4 linked regions of the Homo sapiens genome follow. The protein of the gene in region 4 purifies or fractionates together with the protein of the main gene of each other region. This does not show direct contact. Each region holds a gene or a part of one and is shown on either strand. Other genes may lie near its edges. The genes, in order: CHD5, ASRGL1, DENND10 and STMN2.

What was found.
Region 1: the proteins of STMN2 (region 4) and CHD5 purify together in Homo sapiens (co-immunoprecipitation; one large-scale study listed by IntAct). This does not show direct contact.
Region 2: the proteins of STMN2 (region 4) and ASRGL1 purify together in Homo sapiens (affinity purification with mass spectrometry; one large-scale study listed by BioGRID and IntAct). This does not show direct contact.
Region 3: the proteins of STMN2 (region 4) and DENND10 purify together in Homo sapiens (affinity purification with mass spectrometry; one large-scale study listed by BioGRID and IntAct). This does not show direct contact.

The regions. Positions count from the first base shown.
Region 1 is NC_000001.11:6,120,794-6,125,645, reverse strand, and holds part of CHD5 (chromodomain-helicase-DNA-binding protein 5), read left to right. Parts: intron 1-33; coding exon 34-122; intron 123-412; coding exon 413-546; intron 547-984; coding exon 985-1,129; intron 1,130-1,538; coding exon 1,539-1,698; intron 1,699-4,072; coding exon 4,073-4,152; intron 4,153-4,408; coding exon 4,409-4,541; intron 4,542-4,852. UniProt on the Homo sapiens protein: ATP-dependent chromatin-remodeling factor that binds DNA through histones and regulates gene transcription. May specifically recognize and bind trimethylated 'Lys-27' (H3K27me3) and non-methylated 'Lys-4' of histone H3.
Region 2 is NC_000011.10:62,357,401-62,362,252, reverse strand, and holds part of ASRGL1 (isoaspartyl peptidase/L-asparaginase), read right to left. Parts: intron 3,737-4,852; exon of another isoform or gene 3,372-3,736; intron 1,549-3,371; exon of another isoform or gene 1,322-1,548; intron 1-1,321. UniProt on the Homo sapiens protein: Has both L-asparaginase and beta-aspartyl peptidase activity. May be involved in the production of L-aspartate, which can act as an excitatory neurotransmitter in some brain regions. Is highly active with L-Asp beta-methyl ester.
Region 3 is NC_000010.11:119,102,233-119,107,636, reverse strand, and holds the start of DENND10 (DENN domain-containing protein 10), read right to left. Parts: upstream 3,525-5,404; 5' UTR 3,495-3,524; coding exon 3,440-3,494; intron 2,873-3,439; exon of another isoform or gene 2,615-2,872; intron 2,327-2,614; exon of another isoform or gene 2,153-2,326; coding exon of another isoform or gene 2,142-2,152; intron 1-2,141. UniProt on the Homo sapiens protein: Guanine nucleotide exchange factor (GEF) regulating homeostasis of late endocytic pathway, including endosomal positioning, maturation and secretion, possibly through activating Rab proteins such as RAB27A and RAB27B.
Region 4 is NC_000008.11:79,613,639-79,618,490, reverse strand, and holds part of STMN2 (stathmin-2), read right to left. Parts: intron 1-4,852. UniProt on the Homo sapiens protein: Regulator of microtubule stability. When phosphorylated by MAPK8, stabilizes microtubules and consequently controls neurite length in cortical neurons.

The sequences.
Region 1 (4,852 bases), on a different chromosome or scaffold from region 4:
CCACCTGAGGAACTGTGGCGGGCTGCTCCCCAGGTGGACGACGACAATCCCGGAGGCAGCTGAAGAGTGACAGGGACAAGCCCCTGCCCCCGCTTCTCGCCCGAGTTGGTGGCAACATCGAGGTGGGGCCTGTCTGTTCCCGCATCTCTTTCTGCCCCTGCTTCCTGCTGCCCCTGGGGTATGGAGGAGGGCTGGGGGACTGCCCCGGGTCTCATGCCAGGTAGAGGCGGAGCTTGGACAGAACTTGGTCTGGTCTTCGCCGTCAGGGTCCTGCCCCAGGTGGAGGCCCCTGCCTTCTCTGTGCCCCCTTCCTACCTTCTCCTCCTCCCATGCTTTTCTTCCCCCATCCCAGAATCCTCCACCCCCACCCCTCTCTGTCCTGGGCTCATACTCCCACGCTCCACTCGCCCAGGTGCTGGGCTTCAATGCCCGACAGCGGAAGGCCTTTCTGAACGCCATCATGCGCTGGGGCATGCCCCCGCAGGACGCCTTCAACTCCCACTGGCTGGTGCGGGACCTTCGAGGGAAGAGCGAGAAGGAGTTTAGGTAAAGGGGCTAGGTGGTGGCCCAGGGTGTGACCACCTGCCCCTGAGTAGGGCAGGGTCCTGCGGGTGAGCCCCACAGAGGGCAGCATTTGCTTCCGCCAGGATGAGGCCGTCTGGAAAGTTCACTGCCACTTGGACTTTGGGTGGCTAGAGTCCTGGTGCCGGGCAGGGCTGATTTGCAAACACTGACCATCCGCCCCTGCCCAAACCAGCTGGTGTTATGGCAGCGAGGAAGATCCCGGTCACCCAGGGCTGTCCTAGGAGGTCCCCTCGCCAGGGAGGCCCTCTCTGTCCTTTCCCGGGCCTGGCCCAGGCCTGACTAGGAGGTGGGCGATGGTTGAAGATCAGCCAGGAGTTCCCCTGGGGTCCTGCCAGCCCTCTCAGAGGGTTCTTGCCGGCCCCCCACTCCCTGAGCCCCAGTCCCCCCCCCCCACCCCAGAGCCTATGTGTCCCTCTTCATGCGGCACCTGTGTGAGCCGGGGGCGGATGGTGCAGAGACCTTCGCAGACGGCGTGCCCCGGGAGGGCCTCTCCAGGCAGCACGTGCTGACCCGCATCGGGGTCATGTCACTAGTTAGGAAGAAGGTGGGTGAGTAACTCTCTGTAGGGCCCTTCCTGGTGGCTGCCTGGGCTCCTGGTGCTGTCCCTTGTGGGTCAGTGGTCAGAGAACAAGTGCCTGGTTCAGGCCACACAGCTGCCCAGGGTCCGAGTCACTCCAGAGGGACTGACCTGGAAAGCCTTTCTGGGTGAGGGGCCTGTGGGGTGGAGGCCAGGATGGTGGGTTACATACAGTTGGAGGACACACAGAGGGTGGGAGGGTGGGCAGGGGAGCTTGTGGTCAGGAGGGGCCTGGCTTGGCCAGCCTTGGGCGGAGGTAGCAGCTACCCCAAGCCTGTGACACTTTCAGCCCCCCTGGCTGCCCTGAGGCCCTTAGGGCTGAGTTGCCACCACTGCCCTCCCTCTTTCCCTTCCACCTTCCCTCCCACCACCCCAGGTTCAGGAGTTTGAGCATGTCAACGGGAAGTACAGCACCCCAGACTTGATCCCTGAGGGGCCCGAGGGGAAGAAGTCGGGCGAGGTGATCTCCTCGGACCCCAACACACCAGTGCCCGCCAGCCCTGCCCACCTCCTGCCAGCCCCGCTGGGCCTGCCAGGTCTGTGGGCTGGGCGGGCCGGGGAGGGCACTGGGGTCATGGAAAGTGGCAAGGTCACAGAAACCCCTAGTCTAACCCACAATCCCACAGAAGACGGCCTCTCCTTCCCCCAAAGCCTCTGTTTGCTGAAATGTCACTCTACAGAGAGTTTTCCATTTTAATGACAGTTACGAGATATAATTTATATACATACTGCAAAATTCACTCTTTTAAAAAACTGGCTGGGCGCGGTGGCTCACACCTGTTAATCACAGCACTTTAGGAGGCTGAGGCGGCAGGATCACCTGAGCTCAGGAGTTTGAGACCAACCTGGCCAACATGGTGAAACCCCGTCTCTACTAAAAATACAAAAGATTAGCCGGGCATGGTGGCACGTGCCTGTAATCCCGGCTGCTCGGGAGGCTGAGGCAGGAGAATCGCTTGAACCTGGGAAGCGGAGGTTGCAGTGAGCCAAGATCACACCACTGCACTCCAGCCTGGGGGGACAAAGCAAGACTCCATCTCAAAAAAAAAAAAGTACTATTCAGTGATTTCTAGTATATTCGTAGGGTGTACAACCATCGCCACTGCCTAAGGCCGGAATATTTTCATTCCCCCTGAAAAAGAAACCCTGTACCCATTAGCAGCCACTCCTTATCCCCCCACCCCAGGCCTGGGCAGCCACTAACCTGCTTCCTGTTTCTGGATTTCGCAATGCTGGATGGTTCGTGTATATGGCACTGCACAGTGCGTGGGCCTTTCTGTCTGGCTTCTGTCACTCAGCCTGGGGGTTCCAGGTTCATCCACATTGCAGCGTGCATCAGTGCTTCAGTCATTCTGTCATTCTGCCTTATGGCTGATAATGTTTTCTTTTTCTTTCTTTCTTCCTTTTTTTTTTTTTGAGATGGAGTTTCGCTCTTGTTGCCCAGGCTGGAGTGCGATGGAGTGATCTCGGCTCACTGCAACCTCCGCCTCCCAGGTTCAAGCGATCCTGCCTCAGCTTCCCGAGTAGCTGGGATTACAGGTGCCCGCCACCACACCTGGCTGATTTTTGTATTTTTAGTAGAGACGGGGTTTCGCCATGTTGGCCAGGCTGGTCTTGAATTCCTGACCTCAGGTGATCCACCCTCCTCGGCCTCCCAACGTGCTGGGATTATAGGCGTGAGCCACCGCGCCTGGCCGATAACGTTTTCTTGTATGAATTTACTGCATTTTGCTTATCCATTGCGCTGTCGATAGATTTTGGATTGTTTCTACTTTTTGGCTGCTGTGAATAATGCTGCTGTGTTTTATGTTTTTGCGTGGACATACGTTTTGAGTTCTTTTGGGCAGATATCTAGGAATGGAATTGCTGGGCCGTGTGATAACCCTGTTTTCCCTTTTGAGAAACTACTAGACTGTTTTCCAAAGCAGCTGTACCATTTTACATTCCTGCTAGTATTGTGCGGGAGTCCCAGGTTCTCCACGTCTTCAGCAGTAATTGTTCTCTGCCTTCATGGTTCTAGCTGTCCTGGGAGCATGAGGTGGTGTCTCACTGTGGTTCTGATTGGCATTTCCCTGATGCCAAGGACGCTGAATGTTGTTCGGTGTGCGTATTGGCTGTTTGTAGACTTGTAGAAATGTCTTTTCAGATTCTTTGCACACTTAATTGGGTCATTTGTGCCCGTGTCACTTTGGTGATCTAGGTATTTATTTGGGTGAAGCAAATACCTGTTAAGTACTTGGTCCGTCGGTTGGGCCTCACAGGCCTGGGGCGGACATAGCTATCCCATGGTGATGGGTGAGGCCAGGCCCTGAGAAGCTGCACCTCCAAGCACAAGGGAGCCCTTGGAGGTGGACACATCTTGGTTTGCTTCTTGGCTTTGGCCTGAACTCTGTCTAACCTTGGGCAAGTCACCTAACCTCTGTGGGCCTCCGCTTTCCCGGCTGTGCCCACCTCCCGGGGCTTCTCAGAGCTGTGTAAGTGACCAGCACTTTGCAGTGTGTTGGCGGCTGGCTTGGCAGGGAGGAAATTCACCCCCTGTCCAGAGGCACACACCAGCCAGCCCGCCCGAAAGCTGGGACCAGAGCGGGTGTCGTGGCTCCCAATCTGGGCCTCCATCTGCCTCACTTCCCTGCCTCCAGATGAGCAGCCACGGCTGTGTGCGGCCCCGTCCTGACAGCCCCTCACTTTGGTCTTACTGGGTTCAAGGTCCTCCAAGCACTCCTGAGTCAAAGGCCTGGCCTGGCCTCTCTGACTTAGCCGGGGATCCTGCTTGTCTCTCCTGGAGGTGCTTGGCTGCAGTGGAGCCTCCCGAAGGCCAAGCCCCCATCTCTCCTCTCTGCCACCCCACTCCCTGCCCTACTCCTTCCCGTCTGAGCCCACCTGTCTCAGCTCTTTCCCTTGATCTTTCAGACAAAATGGAAGCCCAGCTGGGCTACATGGATGAGAAAGACCCCGGGGCACAGAAGCCAAGGCAGCCCCTGGAAGTCCAGGTGTGGAACTTGCTGGCGTCTGGGCCTGTGGTGTGTGTGGGGTGGAGGTTGGGTCTGGGGACCTTCTCAGGCCCTGTACAGCGAGGTGGAACCCAGGCCTCCTGGCTCCCTTTTCGGGGCTCTGAATCGGCGGGGAGCAGGCTAGGAGCAAGCGACGGGAGCCAGGAGACTGGGTTCCCAGCCCAGCGCACGTTCCCCGCCCTCCGTTCCTGGTGAGGCCCCAGGCCTTGTAGTTCTCCTGGCTTTTCCTCTGCAGGCCCTTCCAGCCGCCTTGGATAGAGTGGAGAGTGAGGACAAGCACGAGAGCCCAGCCAGCAAGGAGAGAGCCCGAGAGGAGCGGCCAGAGGAGACGGAGAAGGCCCCGCCCTCCCCGGAGCAGCTGCCGAGAGGTTGGGGCTTCTTGCAGGCCACCCACCCCAGTGCCATGTCTGGCCTCAGCAGGCCTGGGTTCAGAGAAGGGCAGGTGGCTGTACTTCCGCTCATTTCTCCCTGGCAGAGAGGTAGACTCCAACCCTCTGCAGGCCCCCTGGTGAGGGGAGGCCAGGAGCTCAGGCCTCTATACATGGACTTAATGGACTTTTTTTTTTTTTGGAGAAAGGGTTTCGCTCTGTCACCCAGGCTGGAATGCAGTGGTACCATCTCGGATCACTGCAACATCCGCCTCCCGGGTTCAAGTGATTCTTGTGCCTCAGTCTCCCTA
Region 2 (4,852 bases), on a different chromosome or scaffold from region 4:
GTTATAGGGTGAAATATAAGTTTAGTCAAGATATTCCATCTTTGGGCATATCTAGAAGACACTGCATTTATTCCCTCTATTGTTCCAAAGCACTACCATTAGTGGCACAGTGGAGGTCATGCATCCTAGAAACAAATTTCAAATGATGGGCTGTATATGTCACATAGTATGCTTCTGGATTCTTAGCCAAGCTTCTTGCTTGTACATCTCTCATTTACCAACCACATTTGCTCCATTATCACAGGCTTGCCTTCAACAATCCTTGAAATTAGTGTCTAAAACAGAAAGTTTTCTTTCAATTCTTCACTTAATTCAAAAATCACACTTTAAGGAGGAGATATAAAGCCAATGAAACATGGAATGATTTAGGCTTGTTTTTCTTCAAGCAGTAATGGTCCACTCATGGTACTATCAGTACCACGGTACACTCTAGTTGAACTGAGTAACTATTTTATTAAAAAACTTTGGGCTGGGCACAGTGGCTCACGCCTGTAATCCCAGTACTTTAGGGGGCTGAGGCAGGCAGATCACGAGGTCAGGAGTTTGAGACCAGCCTGGCCAACATGGTGAAACCCCCTCTCTACTAAAAATACAAAAATTAGCCGGGCATGGTGGCATGCGCCTGTAGTCCCAGCTACTCGGGAGGCTGAGGCAGAAGAATCTCTTGAACCTGGGAGGCGGAGGTTGCAGTGAGCCGAGATTGTACCACTGCACTCCAGCCTGTTGACAGAACAAGATTCTGTCTCAAAAAAAAAAAAAAAAAAAAAAAAATTGGCCAGGTTTGGTGGCTCACCAAAGCACTTTGGAAGGCCAAGCAGGAGGGAAGATCCCTTGAGCTCAGGAGCTTAAGACGAGCCTGGGCAACATGGCAAGACCCCGTCTCTACTAAAAATAAAATTAGCCAGGCATGGTGCATGCCTGTAGTCCCACCTACTTGGGAGGCTGAGATGGGAGGATCACTTGAGCCTGGGAGATTGAGGCTGCAGTGAGCTACGACTGTAACACTGCACTCGAGCCTGGGTGACAAAGTAAGACCTTGTCTCAAAAAAACAAAAAAACAAAACCCCACAAAACCAAAAAATTTATTGACAAAAAAATTTTTACAAATGATTTCATGTCTCACTTTATTCTCCATTAAACTCATAATCTGTTGGAATTCTCTATCCTAGGTAATGATCATTACTTTCATTATTTTTGTCTTAATTATATGTTTGGCATTTTACCAAATTTTGAAATCTCTTTTACTGAAACCTAGAAAATTTCCATTGTTTTTTGCACACACTGTACTGACGGTGTCATGAAAAGAATGATTAGGCTTGGCTAAATATTGGATACATTGTATTATTCTTTCAAGAACATTACATCAGTATTTTATATTGTTTTCTGTTTCCGGTAAAATCAATTGTTTATTCGGCCTCTTTCCCTCAATTCCTGTAACAGGGTGTGTGTTTTATTGTGTGTGATTCTTCATGATTAGCAATTAAATCTTCCGTTAGTAAAGAAGGAGGTTGCCATGATTTCATCTGACTTGTTCAAACTGTGGATTTGGTGAGAATAATTTTCTTACTAATTTTAATTGTTTTGATTAATAAGTAGATCTTAATTGAACAAAACCTTTGTAATGTCTTGTTTGTGAATTTTATGTGGGTCACCCTGGAAGAAGACTGCTTGCTTTTACTGCTTCCAGTGTTGGAAAATGCAAGCAGCCTGCTTCTTTGAAGATTTTTACTTTCTTTTTCATTTTTTCTTTTGTGAGCTCCACTTTATAGCATTCTTTTTCTACCAAAATCTTGACTTATACTCATTTTCAATAATCTAAGGGATTAAAAGTGAAATATAATTATATCCAAAGTATAAAAAAATGAGAATGTATTTTCATAAAAAAATAAAGAGCTAATCTAAAAAAATTAAAAAAAAAAAAAGTTGGCCGGGCATGGTGGCTCATACCTATAATCCTAGCACTTTGGGAGGCCGAGGTGGGCGGATCACCTGAGGTCAGGAGTTCGAGACCAGTCTGGCCAACATGGTGAAACCCTCTCTCTACTAAAAATACAAAAATTACCCAGGCGTGGTGGCGCACACCTGTAATACCAGCTACTCAGGAGGCTGAGGAGAACTGCTAGAACCTGGGAGGCAGAGGTTGCAGTAAGCCGAGATCGTGCCACTGCACTCCAGCCTGGGCAACACAGTGTGACTCTGTCTCAAAAACAAACAAAACCAAAAAAAAAAAAAAGAAAAGCAAAAAACAAAAAAAAGAAGTAATTTGCAGATATAATTTCCAAAAAGTTACAAAAGTAATTGTAAAATATACAAAATTTTTATTAATGTTAAAGTTAAAATATGAATTATAATTAGTAAATACAATACATAAAGGCTAAAATTACATGAAAGCTAAAAATTTTACCACTGTATTTTTGAAATTAACTGCATCTTTTAAATATTTTCATCAAAATAAAACCATTCATAATTCTAACAGTCAACATCCATGTAGTTGCTAACACGGAGAGTTAGCAACTACAGGAGCTTTTTGTTTTTCTCTGTTATCAGTTTTTCTCACACAGGTTCTGTCTAGACCTGTGCTGTGCACTTACAGAAGCTGCAGCTCCATGTGGCTACTGAGTGGCTGCTAGCTAAATGTGGCTGTCCTCAGTGAGATGTACTGTAAGTGTAAAACACACCAGATTTTGAAGATTTAGTACAAAAAAAGAGCAAGACATCTTATAATTTCTTATATGCATTACATGTTGAAATATTTTGGATATATTTGGTTAAATAAAATATATTATTAATTTCACTTTTTTTTTTTGAGACAAAGTTTCGCTCTTGTTGCCCAGGCTGGAGTGCAATGGCGCGATCTTGGCTCACTGCAACCTCTGCCTCCTGGGTTCAAGCGATTCTCCTGCCTCAGTCTTCTGAGTAGCTGGGATTACAGGTGCCCACCACCATGCCTGGCTGATTTTTGTATTTTTAGTAGAGACAGGGCTCACCATGTTAGTCAGGCTGGTCTTGAACTCCTGACCTCAGATGTGATCCACTGTGGATGTGGCCACTAGAAAATGTCAAATTACATTTGTGGCTCTCACAGTATTTCTACTGGATGGTGCTGTTCTAGACCTACCCATACACAAACTGAAGAGTAACAGTCCCCATGTGCAACTTCTACAGACACTACACTAACTCATGAAAATCTTCAGAGTCCAGAGTGCTAACCATTACACCACAGAACCCTCTCTGTAACAATCTTCAGAACTAAATATTCCAACATGCAGAGAGGCAAGAAAATGGATACCTAGCACTACAGGGAAATAATACTTTGTGATGCAAGAATCTATTTCATCAGTTAATTAATTTGTCTTTTTCTCTTACCTAAGTCCTTCTGCTGTTCGAATCTTCCCCACACTCCAAAGCAATGTCCATTTCTGATGTCAACAGTGGCACTACCCACAAACTTTGAACTCAGGTGCCTTTTGCTTCCAAGACATAGAGCAACGGATGTGGAGATTTCCTTGATGGCTGAGTGGTGTTAGTCACAAGAGCAATGATTGGGGTTACTGGTCAAGCTGTGCCAATGTTGAGTGACAAAGGGGTCCTATGTGTTCTGGAATAAGTCAATTGTTTTGTGTGTTTATGGTATGAGGGTCCTTTAAAGTGCAGGGACCATGGCAGGAACCCCTCTTGCTTACGTGTAAAGCAGCAGTGGCTGGTGGAGAGGTGTTAATAAATTTCTGGAAAGCAATGTGGTGACATCTTTCAAAATGAACGTAAATCATGCATAAGGCAACCCCACTGCTATGACTCTAGCCCACAGACACAAAAGCACACTCAGTCAGGCTGTCAACAGCTGCCAACATAAGGTCAATCTTTTTTTTTTTTTTTTTTTTCTGAGACGGAGTCTCGCTTTGTTGCCCAGGCTAGAGTGCAATGGTGGGATCTTGGCTCACCGCAACCTCTGCCTCCCGGGTTCAAGCGATTCTCCTGCCTCAGCCTCCCGAGTAGCTGGGATTACAGGCACGCACCATCATGCCTGGCTAATTTTTTGTATCTTTAGTAGAGACGGGGTTTCACCGTGTTGCCTAGGCTGGTCTTGAACTCCTGAGCTGAGGCAATCCGTCCGCCTCGGCCTCCCAAAGTGCTGGGATTACAGGTGTGAGCCACCGCACCCGGCCAAGGCCAATCTTTTAAAACAGACTCTGAACCTGAGGAACACATCAGAATTACCTGGGAACCCTTTTTATAATATACCTGTCTGGCTTCTCCACCTCAGATCTATTTAAATCTGATTCTTCTGGCGGGGTGGCCTAAACATGCATATTTTGAAAAAGCTCCCTAGGTGATACAAGGTATACCTCTGATTAAATATCATTACTCTAAAAAGTATGCGGAGTCAATAGATTTAATTCCATTATAAACTCCCAGGCCATATTCACATTTTACTTTCAAATTTTGCTTTAAATAAGCAGTCCTTTATTTAGGATTTCAAAATCTGTAACAGAAAACTGTAATTCAGAAAATGACTAATTTGAATTTCTAAGAGTTGTGCTGATTTCTCTAAACTATGAAAGAGTACTTAAGTTTATAAGGTACACTAGATCACAGATAACCTGTTTAGTCTATTTAAGATAAACTGATCAAGAAGAATCCAGATAACTGATACATTAATACGTGAAATTCTTCTACTAAATCATGTCAGAGGCTGGGCTCGGTGGCTCATGCCTGTAATCCCTGCACTTTGGGAGGCCGAGGCAGGTGGATCACCTGACGTCAGGAGTTTGAGACCAGCCTGGCCAACACGGCGAAACCCCGCCTCTACTAAAAAAAAAAAAAAAAAAAAAAAAATGAGCCGGGTGCAGTG
Region 3 (5,404 bases), on a different chromosome or scaffold from region 4:
AGGTCGGGACTTCGAGACCAGCCTGACCAACCTGGAGAAACCCCATCTCTACTAATAATACAAAAATTATCCGGGTGTGGTGGGGCATGCCTGTAATCCCAGCTACTCAGGAGGCTAAGGCAAGAGAATTGCTTGAACCCGGGAGGCAGAGGTTGCAGTCAGCCAAGATCACGCCACTGCACTCTAGCCTGGGCAACAGAGCAAAACTTGGTCTCAAAAAAAAAAAAAAAGACAAAGAAAGATGTTAGAGTTTCTCCCTATCTCCTCCCACACAAATGCTTATCAACTAAAATTACATTAAGTTTTTAACTAGTTGGAATAATTCTTTTTTTTTTTTTTGAGGCGGAGTCTCACCGTCACCCAGGCTAGAGTGTACTGGTGCTATCTTGGCTCCCAGGTTCAAACGATTCTTCTGCCTTGGCCTCCCAAGTAGCTGGGATTACAGGTGCCCACCACCATGCCCAGCTAATTTTTGTAGTTTTAGTAGAGACAGGGTTTCGCCATGTTAGCCAGGCTGGTCTTGAACTCCTGACCTCAGGTGATCTGCCCGCCTCGGCCTCCCAAAGTGCTGGGCGGAATAATTCTTTAAATGGAGTTTTGCTCTTATTGCCCAGGCTGGAGTGCAATGCAGTGATCTCAGCTCACCACAACCTCCATCTCCCAGATTCAAGCTATTCTCCTGCTTCAGCCTCCCGAGTGGCTGGGGTTACAGGCATGCACCACCACTCCTGGCTAATTTTGTATTTTTAGTAAAGATGGGGTTTTGGTTTCTCCACATTGGTCAGGCTGGTCTCGAACTCCCCACCTCAGATGATCTGCCTGCCTCGGCCCCCCAAAGTGCTGGGATTATAGGCGTGAGCCACCGTGCCCAGCCGAATAATTTTTAATAAATACATAGAAAAGGTTTGTCGAAAACAAAACCAGAGATGAAGAAAATAGTGAAATATTTCAAACCATGTTGCATACCAACTGTGTGAATTTTGTATTTAAAATTGTTTAGGCCAAGCATAATGGCTCATGCCTATAATCCTAACACTTTGGGAACCCAGGAGGATCGCCTGAGGCCAGAAGTTCCAGACCAACCTGGGCCACATAGTGAGACCGCATCTCTACAAAAAAAAAATTTTAATTAGCTGGACATGGTGGTGTGTGCCTATGGTCCCAGCTACTCAGGAAGCTAAGGTGGGAGGATCAAGTTAGCCCAAGATTCAGAGGTTGTCGTGAGCTATGCACCACTGCATTCCAGCCTAGTCAACAGAGAGAGACCCTGTCTCTAAAGACTACAAATAAAAAATTGTTATTGAAAACAGAATTACCATTCCACCCAGTAATCCCATTACTGGGTATCTGCCGAAAGGAAAAGAAATCATTATACTAAAAAAGACACTCACATTCTGTTTTTTTTTCTCTCTCTGAGACAGGGTCTAACTCTGTCACTTGGGCTGCAGTGCGGTGGCGCAATCTCAGCTCACTGCAACCTCCACCTCTGATCTCAGCTCACTGCAACTTCCACCTCCCGGGTTCAAGTGATTCTCCTGCCTCAGCCTCCTAAGTAGCTGAGATTACAGGTGTGCACCACCACGCCCAGTTAATTTTTTGCCTTTTTAGTGAAGACAGGGTCTCGCTATATTGGCCAGGCTGATCAACTCCCAGCCTCAATTGATCCACCTGCCTCAGCCTCCCAAAGTGCTAGGATTACAGGCATGAGCCACCACGCCTGGCCTCTTTTTTCAATTTCTTTTTTTGAGACGGGGTTGGGGGGGGTCTCACTCTGTCACCCATGCTGGAGTACAGTGGCATGATCTCAGTTCACTGCAACCTCTGCCTCCTGGGACCAAGCAATCCTCCCACCTACAGGCACACCACACCCGGCTAATTTTTGTATTTTTTGTAGAGACACGAGGGTTTTACCACATTGCCCAGGCTGGCTGCAAACCCCTTTTAAATGCACGTTAGTGTGAATAATTAAAAAACTGCTGAGTTCAAAATATGATCATATGTCATCTTTTTATTTGCTATTAGTAGATAAAGACAGTTTAACTTAGCCTTAGTTCAAAAGTACCTTCTGGAGAAACTAAGTTACTTAGGTTTTGTTTTGAAGCAGTTTGAAAATCACATTAGAAATAAATACAGTAATCCACCTGGACAACATGTCGGTATCCCATCTCCACAAAAAATACAAAAATTAATCGGGTGGTGGTGCACGCCTGAGGTCCCAGCTACTCGGAGGCCGAGGCGGGAGGATGGTTTGGGCCTGGGAGGTGGAGGCTGCAGAGAGCGATGATTGCGCTACTGCACTCCAGCCTGGATAAGAGGGAGACCCCGTCTAAAAAAAAAAAAAAGAAGAAAGACAAAGAAATAAAAACAGTAAGCGATTCCCACATAAACGCACTGCTTTGAGGCACTGAAAAATAATCAGCATATTTCTTCAGTTTTGCTAAAGCCTAAGCAATGTTATTGCGCACTTGGGGAATAGAAAGAGTTTAGGGGTGTGCAAAAATCTCGGGAAAATAAAACTTTTTCGAAGGGAACCAACGGGTTCCATCCCCTAAATACTGCACGAGGCTGCCCAAAGATCCCCGTGTGATATTTTTTAATTATGGAAGATAATTACATTCCTCAGAGCTAACCGAGATTCCACCACACAGGATTGTGTAGAAACTCCTGCTTTATTTATGCACAAGCTCGATCACATGATGCAGGAGCTCTCCACTGGTGGGGGTTGGGGGCTCTGGGATACACTGCGAGGGTCCCACTCCCGGCTCTGTACGGCCTATGGTGTGTCCGTGCACAATGACGGCCTGGGCCTCCATTTGCTCCTCCGTGAAGTGGGCGTCAGACGTTTCCCACGGCCCCTCGGTCCTTGGTGAGAGCTAAAAGGAGACAATGTGTGTACAACGCGCAGCACCCGGCCCAGCAGTCTCCAGCTGCCCGGTCCCACGATGGGGGCCGCCCGGGCGGGCAGTCACCCGTGGCTCCGAGGCAGCCGCCCGCCCCCGGCTCGGGGGAACCGGACCCTGCCTCCTCCCCGCCGCGCCGCGCCGCGCCGCCAGCCGGCTGCTCCCGCCCGGCCCGGCCCCGCCCGCGCAGCGCCCCTCGCAGCTGCCCAGCCTGGGAGCGCTCGACGTCCCGGCTCCGCCGGGCAACCCGGGGCGTGCAGGGGGAGCTCCACCCCGGAATCTTGGAGGTCCCCGGGCTCCCTCGGGCCGGGCAGGCCCCACAGGCGGCCGCGGGCGGGCGGGCGAGGGCGGCGGGCCGGGTCCCCTGCACCAAGGAGGCCGGGCTCCGCAGTCCCCAGTCCAGGCCCAACAGGGAGGGGGCCGCGCCCTCCTCATGCGGTCGGCGCCGGGGGCCGCGGGAGCCCGGGCTGCCCCGGGCCGAGGTGGAGCAGAGGCAGAACCAGGGTGCGGGCTTCCAGGCAGGGCGCCTACGTCCTCACCGATCAGCCCGACTCCAAGCATCAGCTGAGTGTCCGCCACCTCGGCCGCAGCCATCTTCCGCCGCCGCGGCGCGCAGCTCTGGCTGCCGCCTGCAGGACCGGCCTCGCACCCGAACCCCGCCCCGCCCGCCGTAGGGCCCGCCCCCATCACAGGCCCCGCCTCCCTCCCCGGCCCATCATAAGCCCCGCCTCCCTCCCCGGACCATCACAGGCCCCGCCTCCCGCTGTAGGACCCGCCTCCCTCCCGCCCCGCCCCATCACAGGACCATCAACCCCCCCCGTCGGCCCCGCCCCACCCGCAGGCCCACCTATTCCAGCCCCAGTCCTCCCTGCCAGGACCTGCTCAGTGCAGCTCCACTCGTCTTCTGCCCGTGGCCCTTCGCCCTTGGAAACCTCCTTGAGTCTCCGCAGCCTGCCTCAATTTCTCTAATCCAGCTGTTCATCCTTCTTCTTCTCAATCCACTCCAATCTTTCTTCCCGTCGTAGGCTTTCCTTGTTCTACCTCTGCCCTCTGGTCAAGCTCAAAAGAACAGGTCACCTTGTTCCTAAAAAGAGGCGTCCTGAGGATGGAGGAAGGGTCTCCATCCATTCCTTCATCCAGCCACCCCCAAAACAAAACAAAACAAAAATTGAGGGCCTAATAAGGCACTGGGGATACCTTATAGGGCTGAACAAGACAGAGCAGTCCACTGGGGAAGACAGACAATTGGCGAGTAGAATAAATAATCCAGGCCAGGTGAGGTGGCTCACGCCTCTGATCCCAACACGATGGGAGGCCAAGGCAGGAGCATCACTTGAGGTCAGGAGTTCGAGATCAGCCTTGGCAACATAGTGAGACCCATCTCTACAAAAAAAATTTAAAAATTAGCCAGGCATAGTGGCATGCACCTGTAGTCCCAGCTACTCTCAGGCTGAGGCAGGAAAATCATTTGAGCCCAGGATTTTGAGGCTGCAGTGAGCTGTGATCCTGCCACTCACTCCAGCCTGGGTGACAGAGTGAGACCCTGTCTCAAAAATAAATAAATAGATAAATAGATGACAGATAGATAGATAATAGTAAAAAAGCTCAGAATGATATGTGCCCTGGAGGCAACGATATGTGCCCTGGAGGCAGTGTGTTAGAGAGTGGAGGTGTGCTGCTCTAAAATGGGTGTCAAGAAAGGCTTCTCTGAGAAAGGGATATTTGAACTGAGATCTGAATGATAGTAACGACTCAGACATTGGAAGATTTGGCTCCAAGATTCCTCCTCTGGATCTACTGTCTGCCCCAACCCCAAGTCACACAGAGCTAATTAGGGAGGGTCCTTGGTGTCTGCAGGAATACAATCCCACCCTCATCTTTTTTTCTTTTTTCTTTTTTTTTTTTTTTTTTTGAGATGGAGTCTTGTTCAGTTGCCCGGCCTGGAGTGCAATAGCGCGATCTCGGCTCACTGCAACCTCCGCCTCTCGGTTTTAAGGGATTCTCCTGCCTCAGCCTCCTGCGTAGCTGGGATTACAGGCGTGAGCCACTGCGCCTGTTTTTTTCTTTTTTCTTTCTTTTTTTTTTGGAGACAGTTTCTCGCTATGTTGCCCAGGCTGCAATTTATACATTGGAGTATATTTAGGTGTGTATATGGCATTCCTGTTTCTCTCACTAAACTGAACCCCTGGAAGGCAGCACCCTGAACTACGTGCCCTTCTATTCTCTGGGCTTCCTGTTGTAGTATAACTGTTAATGTGTCTAGTTTTCACAGAAAAGAAGCAGGTGTTTAGAGGCTGAGGAGTGGGACACAGATGTGGAATCAGTTTGGAAGCCAACTAGAAACTTGCACTAGGTGGGGCACGGTGGCTCACGCCTGTAATCCTAGCACTTTGGGAGGCTGAGGTGGGTGGATCACGAGGTCAGGAGATTGAGACCAACCCGGCTAAAACGGTGAAACCCTGTCTCTACTAAAAATACAAAAAATTAGCCGGGCGTGGTGGCAG
Region 4 (4,852 bases):
TTATTCAACAAAATGTTAAAACTAAATATCTCTGGCCTATGGAAGTAGTTAAGGAGGCATTTTGAAATGTGCTAACCATGATGGGACTGAGGAGATTAAGTCAATGTTATTTCTGGAACTGGTCATCAGAGTGTGTTCCCACCAGAAATCGATGCTGTGCTGAGCCTGCAGAACGCCATGTGTCTCATACGTTACAACCCACACGGCCTCATAGCTCTCTTTCTCCCAAAGCCTAAATCATGGCAATTATTTGAATAAGCCCCAGGTAAGCTATTAAAACTAGGCATCAATTTGGAAGTATTTTCTCTTCAAGGTGAGTCTGTGATCAGAAAGGAGAAGACCATCTCTGGTCTGTTTAAATAAAATGGTGATATCACAGGTGTGACCTCTGCAATGGGAGCTCACCTCTAACATGGAACAGATATGAGACTAGCAGCAATCGGTGAAAGATGGATTCCGAAGCCAGATGGCCTGGGCCCAAATTCTGGATCTGACTAACTGTGTGACCTTGAGTAAGATACTTCAACTTTCTGTGCCTCAGTTTCCATATCTGTAATAGAACCTACTTAGGATTATTAAGTGATTAACACAGTTAATATGTGGAAAGTTCTTAGAACAATGCCTTGCATGTTATATGTGCTATACAAGGGTTAAATCAATCAATAAAAGTTACTTCCCATAGAGAATCTGGAATTTATGAATACACCAGAAAAACAGTTGAAAGAAAGCACCATTGCGGGAAAATGTTTGAGTAAAGAAATAGGAAGACTTATTGGCTCGAGGCCCTCAAGTTTAGATTTTTGTCATCTCCAAATGAGGTTATACAGAGAGCCCTGCCCGACTGCCAGAATTAAACATTTAAAACATGAATTACTTTTGTAATGCTGTCTTAAGTGTGTCTTCCTTTCCTTCAATGTACAAGAAATTGCAAAAATGGAAAGTTTCCCAGCTTCTGAGAGACCCTGAAATGAACTGTTAACAACAACTGAATGGCTAACTTTGAGACTTAGTCCAACTTTGTGTTGAGTAACAGTATATTCTGCAAACCCTGAAGCTAGTTTTATTTGGGATCATGTTTTTAGTGCCCTATTTGGGAAATGTTATATTTTTTAATTTGAGATATTTCGTGTATTGTATCATTTTTGCAGCATAATATTTCCAGAAAGGTGGTAATGGCTGCATGGTCAGCCAGTCACTGCATGGGAGACCTGACTATGTCTTTGATGCTATTCCTTGAAGATCCTCTTTCTGATCTGTAGGTTGACTTCCTTAGAAAGTTAGAATTGAATAATGAAGATCCTTTATTGGCTTAGATAAGCAGAAGAAAACACTCTTTTCAAATATACAGTCATACTCAATAAATTCTTAAGAATTTTCTCACATGGTATTCAGGAAGAAATACTCTTAGAATAATTTGGTAAATAATAAATATAAGATATATTGAGACAGCAATCTTTTGTTTTAATTTCTTCAGTATTGCTATTCATAAATGATAGTAAGCTTGCATTATTGATTTATCATCCTTGTCAACTGTGCCACAAGCCGCATTCACATTCATTTCTTCTTAGGCAGGCTGTCTGTCTCTCTCTCTCGCACACACGCACACATGCTCACACAGAGAGCCAAATTCTTATTTTCTACCTTTCTCTCGAAGGTCTTCTGCCGAGTCCTGCAATATGAATATAATTTTAAAAATCCAATTAAGAGAGAGTGATGGGGCAGAACACATAATTCCCAGAGTAATAAAATCCCCAGGTATATGAGTTCGGAAGTAAAATATTTTGTAAAGATTACCATAGATTTAAAAATGTTAAGACATAATACCAGAGCTTACCAGGAGGGATACCTGTATATTACAAGTTAATATCCCTAAAACTGATGTGTTTAGTGGTCAGAATCAGCATCATCTGGGAGCTTGTTCGGAAGACAGAATGTCTGCCTCAAGCCAGATGTATTGAATCAGAATTTGCATTTTAATGAAAATCAAAGGTAATTCATATGCACATCAAAGTTTGAGGAACACAGTAATATGACACTATTAAATATTTTATAGCTGGATTAGAATTACATAAAATGTAATCAAAAAATAATTCTATCAATGCATATTTAAAAAATCCACTTTTGATGATACCCAAAATTAGTTTATACTTATATATTTCTTCTTACTTCGTTAAAATTAACATCGATTTTCTAATAAACAGAAAACCACTACAAGGAGATGCTCAATAATTGTTGAAATCTGATAAAACTAGATTGAAATCACATTGGATTAGATTTAAAAAGGTATCTTTAAATGGAAAAGAAAGACAGACTTAGAAGATGGGAAAAATAACAGCAGTCAGTTTTTGGTACACCTCCTCAGTATCACATACCTGCCTGTTTTACTCGCTAAGCTGCATGTTCTCTGCAGGTGGAGACTCTGATATTCAGATGTGCTCTGAACAGGGGGCACATTTCAATCGATGAAGAAGTAAACAATGATTTTCTTTAATTTATTCCTTTATTTTTAAGCATTAAAATATTCGGCTGCTAAATAACTTTGCTATTACTACTGACATTTTTCTACTATTTATCCACTACAAAATCTCAGAAGTAACATAAATGGTATTATAATAACAATGTAATAAAACTGAGAAGTAAAACCATCAGGGAATAATTAACCAGGGCGTGTATCTACTTTCAGATTATGACCACTCATTTCATCCTGTCTCCTTGAAAATTGTACAAGCTCTGTTCATCCACTAGGGTAAAGCATGGCATCAGCTTATTGAATAAACACTTGAATGTTCCTGGTAAAAGAAAAGATTTTATTAAACAGTTAATATTTGGAACTAGGTTTACATCAATCATCTGCTTTTTTAGAGAACATGATTGCCCTCTAGTGTGGTGAAAAGTTAATGCAGACACCGAGGTTTTCCAATGGACAGAACCAGTCTAGGTTCTGAAAACATCTGGGTCACTGGCTAGTTCAGTATTTTCTTTTTTAATGAAAAAATTCTAGCATTTTTTCATATAAGGTCACAGATCTTGTGACAACAGGATAATATGTGTTTTTCTTCCCACGACCAAAAAAGAAACTGGTGTGAGCTGGGGTTCGCTATCAGCAGCTCCCAGTGGCCACGCCCAGGCCTAGGTTTGTGCTCTGAGCTTCCTCCTGCTCGGAGGCCAGCTTTTTTCAGCCTCCTGTGAGCAATGAGCTACCAAGGTAGCCTGAGCATGTGATCAGTCACACTCAGTTGAAGTAAAAAATAATGGTGATTGATAAATCCGGAATTTTCCTAAAGATGGCCTGAATTTATCAATGACAAAGTCTTCCATTCAATATGTATCGATTCATCCTCCACTTCATTGTTAGTTGTACAGATTTAACTTTAAAATTCTGTTTGATAGCTACTGCTAGGTATTCACAGAACTAAGTAACTATTTGATCTTAAATTATAGGGAAGAAAACTATTTTATTATATGAATCAGCCTTATGGCACTCTGAAAGGACATTTCCTGAATCTGAGTAAATTGTAGCCTCTTGTAGCATTTTTTAATCACTGAGAATGAGCTATTTGATGGAAGTCATATTGTGCCAAATGATTAAATGCTTATTCCACCATCTATCCATTAGTAATTTGAAAAATAAAAACCCAAAGTAATTAAAACTGCTTTCAATGCAACAAATAAAAGTTTGCTAAAAATATTAATGAGGTAATAGCTGTAACAATAAAAACACTCATTTCTCTTTTAGAATAGAATAATTTACTACAAATCTGTAAGTCACATTATTGTAAAAAAAAACCATTGTGAATTTTGACTAAAGTTGTAGATTTTAATAGCACAAATGTCCAATCTTAATTATCATTTTAAAATATACTTTCTCTCAGAGAATTTTAACGTGCATAGACAAACACCACAAGGTCTATTAATTTATCCTATCATTCTAGCTACCTGCGACGTGTTACACTGGGACAGAGAGTGTTTATTGCAGGCTCAGCTTACTCACCTGGTATAAACTAAATACATGAGATTAATTGATAAACTACTGCCATTTCTTTCAGTTTTATCCTGAAATTCTGACCAAATCCTCAGCTTTTCATTTCTAGTTACTTATATATCCATTCAGAAGGTGCCCACTTCATTAGAAAAGATAATGGGGAATATTATATGCACCTCTTACAATCATGCTGAATACATAATTGTTTAATGAATCAGGAAAAAAGCACTCGCCCTGATAATTAATTATCTTTGAAATTGGAATTAATTTCAAAATCTATTATTTTAATACTGCAGAAGTAGTGTTTTTTTCATGATTTGCAAATGCAGTTAAATTATGGCCAGAAAGGATGCTTGCGTTTGTCATATTTGGGGTGGGATTTTTATTTGGATGGCGGCTACCATTTCACGATCCATGTATCTGTGTAGGATTGAGGCTGTATCAAGAATCAGCAGTTGGAAGAACAGTTTCAGGGGAAAAAACTTAAAATTTTGTGCATAAACTATATTTATATATTTATAGATATAACCTTATGTTGAAGATCATCTCAATTATATATGTGTATTCTCACCCATTGCAGCCACAAACAATTCTTTGCAGAGAATTTTCCAGCAATCGTTGGCACACAAACCCTGCTCTTAGCAAGCACTTGCACATGTATCTTAGCCACATGAACATACATAATCCTGGCAGGAAGCAAAAATATATTTGCTTTATAACTTAAAATGAACAACTGGAGACAAATTTACCTTTTTGTGGGGGAAAGGGATGAGGGCAATTAGGAGGAAGCAAAGCGAACGCAACAAGGGTTAATCCTTAACCAAGAGCAATCCACGTCCCTTTTGAACAAATGAGAACAAACAAGGCTAC